Regions from separate parts of the Homo sapiens genome. Here region 1 is linked to region 2. The links come from fine-mapping of genetic effects on gene expression. A gene starts in region 2. The other region holds a variant in brackets. All regions are shown on one strand. Distances are between the middles of the regions.

What was found. PIP is the estimated chance that this variant, and not a neighbour inherited with it, causes the effect. A credible set is the group of variants that fine-mapping cannot tell apart.
Region 1: its variant is the best candidate, but not a certain one, in a credible set for the expression of CPA3 in whole blood (INTERVAL, PIP 0.70).

The regions. Positions count from the first base shown.
Region 1 is chr3:148,908,607-148,911,530 of GRCh38, forward strand. No RefSeq gene overlaps it. Among named protein-coding and RNA genes, the nearest start is that of CPA3, 45 kb to the left of the region's middle. The variant A/G (reference allele first, on the strand shown) is at 1,611.
Region 2 is chr3:148,863,791-148,866,673 of GRCh38, forward strand. CPA3 (carboxypeptidase A3) reads left to right here and starts at 1,506. Exons shown (of 11, transcript NM_001870.4): 1 at 1,506-1,585; 2 at 1,683-1,758. The coding sequence starts at 1,518.

The DNA of each region.
Region 1 (2,924 bases), 45 kb after region 2:
TGCTGTCTTTAGTAAACTGCCTCATGCAGATTTATTCCCAAGCATGCTTCTAAACTCCTGGAAACTGGTCATTATCACGCAGACTTTTTTTAATTCCCCATAGCACCTAACACATCTTGGACATAGTAAGAATAGGGCTGATTCTGGCAGACTGCTTCAGCAGGGCCTCCTGGGATGGCAACACCTAGGTGGAGTGACCACAGTCCAGAACTGATGTGCAGAAATGTCATCTGGAGTAACAGTCTCTTCCAAATAAGTGCATGTTAACCAGACTCACTAGGGGCTGACTTCCACATGAGACTGCCAAATTATTAATAACTTACTATAGGCTGGCCAGGTGTGGTGGCTCACACCTGTAATCTCAGCACTTTGGGAGGCCGAGGAGGGCGGATCACTTGAGGTCAAGAGTTTGAGACAAGCCTGACCAACATGGTGAAACCCTGTCTCTACTAAAAATACAAAAATTAGCCGAGCATGCTGGTGCTGGCCTGTAATCCCAGCTACTTGGGAGGCTGAGCCAGGAGAAGTGCTGGAACCTGGAAGGCAGAGGTTACAGTGAGCCAAGATCACACCACTGCACTCCAGCCTAGATGACAGAGCGAGACTCGGTCTCAAAAAAAATAAAAAATAGCTTACTATGGGCTGGTAGGGGTTTGGAGTGAATCAGAGAATGTAGAGTAGATACATTTAAGATAGACAGAAAGCATTCAACCCAAGCAGTTGTTAAAGAGGCACAAATGCATATGGGATGGGAAAGCATACGCTGTAAAATCATGCTGTCTCAACTTTATACATTTTGATCTGGCAAGTAACATGGAAAAAGAACAATACCAGCATAGTGCTTTCCAGTGCCATCTTTTTCTCTTCATCACTGTTCTTTGTACTCAAAAACTAAGGTCATCTTTGCTTTGCTTTTCTACCTCAAAGAGCCTAGAAGTGGTGGGTGGGGGACAGTAAATGCCCCCAGGGATGAAGTTAATCCCCCTAGAGGGTCACTGCTTCCAGTGATCACGTCCTAAATACGTATTCACATCTTTGTCTCAGACTGTGCTTTCAGTTGAATTAAGGAGGGAAATGAAGGCAGGGAAAATTATCAAATTAACCAGAAGAGATGAAAAAGAAGCTTGTGTGATTAATTCATGCTGTCATCCAGGCCCTAAGTATCAATTTGTCAGAAACTTTTTACTCACCATAAACAGAAGTTAGTTAATTTGCAGCAACATATGATTCAACTAAGAAAAATAATACAGCAGTTTGTTTGGTCAAATATAGGATGCTAAAGAAACCCCAGTGCTTATACTACCAATGCTGAAGAGATCAAGATCATGACACAGATTACAAAAAACAGTCTATACAGCCGGGCGCAGTGGCTTACTCTTGTAATCCCAGCACTTTGGGAGACCAAGGCAGGCGGATCACAAAGTCAGGAGATGGAGATCATCCTGGCTAACATGGTGAAACCTGGTCTCTACTAAAAATACAAAAAAATTAGCTGGCATGATGGCAGGTGCCTGTAGTCGCAGCTACTCGGGAGGCTGAGGCAGGAGAATGGTGTGAACCCAGGAGGTGGAGCTTGCAGTGAGCCGAGATCATTCCACTGCACTCCAGCC[A/G]GGGCGACAGAGCGAGACTCCGTCAAAATAAATAAATAAATAAATAAAACCAGCCTATACATACAACGCTATGCATAATTGACAATAACAGTGTTGTTATATTTAATTTTTAATAGACTTTATCTTCTAGAGCAATTTTAGGTTCACAGCAAAACTGAACACAAAGCAGAGCTCCCTTCCCCCACAACACACAATCTTATCCATCAACAATATCCTGCACCAGTAGTGTCATTATGACAATCAATAAACCAACATTGACACATCACTATCACCCACAATTTAGATTAGCTTCACTCTGGGTGTTGTACATTCTATGCATTTTATATTTAATTTCAGGTATTTACAAAATGATACCCAAAAATGAGATCTTTCCCCAAAGATATGCTCAAAACTGACAGATGGATTGCCACTGAGCTGACAGAAAATCTTCCAGAATAGATATCCAGGAGCCCTACACAACCACTAATCAGGTTCGTTCTTGGTGCTTTACAGGAACATGTATTAAGATGGGGAAAGAACAAGTTCATTGAGAAGTACAGAATCATTCCCATTGGTTTATCTAAACCATTGCAAATTCTCACATTTTGAATCAACAAACCATTTAAGAATTCTTTGAAGACGGATAAAATCAAGATAACACCAGCAAAACTTTCAGAATAGCTGTTAGCAGCTTGGAAGAAAAGGCAAGAGTTAATGGTGGAGCACTCTTTAAAGAAATAATCCTTCACCAATGCTCCTGGTGCCTCCTGAAGAGTGGGAAAATATAGATACTGATGTCTCTAACTGGAAAAAAAAAAGATTCACAAGAGCAAAATTCTACATGTGAAATAACACATGTATTGTGCTCATATTTGCATTTATATGCATGTAAAATTGTGATATTTACTTTTGAAAACTTGTCTAAGTAGGTCTAAAAGAGCCTTTTAAGTATAGAATTAAAATCTTAAAGATAAAAAATTGTAATCTTATTGGTAGCATTTTATTCTTTCTTGACAGAATTGATGGCATCTTAAATGCAGTAAAATAATACAAATACTTACAAAATTATGGGTTGATCTGTGGGAGCAAAGGTCTGGCTTTCAGAGGTCAGAAGGCTGAAGGAATCACAGCAAACCACCGCTGATGATGTCAGCTCCCTGCAGCACCAAAGCAAATGATTCACAAAGGAATGCCCAGGAGTCAAAGTAAACCTCATGACTACCATTTGCCATTTACCTGCCCACCTGCTGTCAGAGAGTAATACCTTCTCCTAATTTTCCACTTTCAATATCCCAAGTAAGTGTTTCTCATTAACAGAATCTGAACCAGAATTCC
Region 2 (2,883 bases):
TAGTCAAAAGCAATGGAGCAAGCATTTGCTTTGGGAGTTCTCAGTGCTGGTGAGCTTGCCCAGTGTCAAGAACATGAAGGCATTTGTAAAACCCTCCTCTTCCTTACCTGCAAGGCTGGAGCCGGAAAATCCATTTGGGGAAATAAAAAAAAGTCCCGAGTTCTACCACACACCCATCAGATAGAGAAGAATGGAATTACTGCTGCTGTATATATAACAGGGGCGTGTCTCCAACCACACTATTTTGATAGTACATAAGCGTGACTCTGAGAAGTTTTATCTACAGTCAGCTATACGTTTGTCAATGTGAAGAGGTGGTTTTCAAAAAGGAAATTCTAATAAGTTAACTGATTAGATAAATTCACTTACTCTTTTAGGTTACCTATGATTCTAGGTAAAGGTGTTATTCTCCCATAATTAACCAAGTTGTGTTCAAGACTAAACATCCCTCCAGAGATGGTTGTGAATGGTCTATAGGTGGCTTTCATTAATTCAACTCTCAAAAGGCATTATTTGGCAATTACAGCATCCAGGCTCTGAAGACAGTGTCCAATTAATAAACATTACAGCATTGATATTTTCTTGCTGTCAGGTAGTTCTCAAGTTGCCTTAGAAATAGGGGTCACCTCTGAGGACAGAGAGAAGAGAAGGGCAAAGAGTTAGGGCAGTGCTTTAGGTCTTTAGTGTTTATTTCTTTACCCAGAGAAGTACAGGAAAAATATAACAAAAATGTTATCATTGTAAAATCTAAATGGTGAACATTTCAATGTTCGCCATAGTACTTACAGCATTTTTAGTACATTTATATTTTGTAATTTAAATTTTTGGGGTTTTTTTTGCCTCCCAAGTAGCTGGGATTAAGGCACCTGCCGCCACGCCCGGCTAATTTTTGTATTTTTTAGTAGAGACAGGGTTTCACCACGTTGGCCAGGCTGGTCTTGAACTCCTGACCTCAGATGATCCACCCGCCGCGGCCTCCCAAACTGCTGGGATTACAGGCGTGAGCCACCGTGCCCAGTCAATTTAAATGTTTTTAATTTCACAACTTACATTCTAGCTTCAAAAATATATTTTACATTATTACGAACCACTCACCAAGATTTTATGGCCAGATACCCAAATTCATCTCAGTCTCCAAGTGCAAATTTTAAAACTAATTTCTTCCATCATTCAATTCAAGCAGAATGGTAGAGTAGTATTTTAGAACAGATAGAACTAGTAAATCCCAGCTCTGTGAACATACTTTCTCTGTTACCTTGGCCAAGTTATTTGCTAAAGGCATTTGCTTCCCATCCTGTATCTGTAAAATGGGTATTTCCTATTGCAAAAGGTAGATAAGTAGCATGTGCTTGGTGGGTTAGTGTTTTTCCCTCTCCAGCTGGAAAAAAAAAACCTGGTGTGGGGGAAGAAGGGGAACAGTTTGTGCAACAGAACCCTAAGAGGAAATCAGCTGCTCATCAAGATAAGGGCTGAGGCATAAAACTGCCAGAGGGTCTCAAGGCAGGCAAAGAAGAACCATGAGGCTCATCCTGCCTGTGGGTTTGATTGCTACCACTCTTGCAATTGCTCCTGTCCGCTTTGACAGGTAAATCTTACTTCCTGTGTTCCAGTCTCTGTGTAGAAGAGAATTAAAGGTTGTTTCCTTACAGTTCACTTTTTTTTTTTCATTTGCCTCCACAAAGGGAGAAGGTGTTCCGCGTGAAGCCCCAGGATGAAAAACAAGCAGACATCATAAAGGACTTGGCCAAAACCAATGAGGTAAGCATTTAGAGGGATATTTTATCTTTTCTTACTGTTCTCTAAAAGATGCTTCTTCTTATTTTACTGTCAATGCCCATGGGACTACAAAAGACTATTGAACATAAGGGGAAAGCAGGAGCTATCTGGATAATTCAGCCAATGGCCAATACTTCACCTGTTCTGGTTTTGGTCTTGGTTTCCAAGACTACCACTTCTGTTTTTCCTCCCAAAAGCTTTTCAAACACCAGCTTTTTCAAGGTAAAACTATGAAATCAGGAGCTGTTCTTGGCCTCCTTATCAGGGCATCTTTCTCTTGCCTACGGGTGCCATTCCCTCTCCATTCTCCCCACTCCGACCCTCATCTCCTCTGGTGCCATAATTTCTCTTGAGTACTAACTGAAAACGTTGAGGCACTGGCTAATATCAAGATGTGACCCTTTCCAAGAGCAGGTACATTTTCAAATAAGACTTTTAAAGTTAGATCAATCCTTTAAAATCCAACAGCCTAATATAATTTTATCATGTATTCAGCTGCTCCTATTTATGTTGCACCAGCCACCTTATATATGCCATTTCAAATTCTCCAGCAGATTCTCAATGTCAGGGTTATAATGTAACTCATTTGAAACAGAAGAGCTAAAGTGCAAAGACAATAAATTAAATGACCAAGATTACACATCAAATTTAAACCCAGAACTGGGTCTGGGATTTATTCCAGTCAAACATACAGTTACCTCTACATCAAATCAATCAAAGGCCCTGCCTATTCTAACTCCCAAATGTTTCTCAAATCCACACATTGCCCTCCATTCCACTGCCACTGCCAAGTTCATGTTCACTCTACCTCTTGCAAGGAGAATTTCCATAGTCCCTTAACTAGCAATCAGGGCTCTAGTCTTGACTCCCACAAAGCCAACTCTGCATTGCAACCTGATTGCTCACTCTAAAACTTGACAATTGCATTCCTCCGTTTGAGGGTCATTACTAAGAAGCAGCCTAGTACGGAAAAAGCATTTTCTTCAAAGTCAAACGCTTACATTCAAATCCAAGCTCTACGCTAGCTCTGTAGCCTTAGGCAACTTACTCAACATCTCTGGGTCTCAATTTCTTCTGCTATAAAATGGGGATAATAGTCATAGCTAC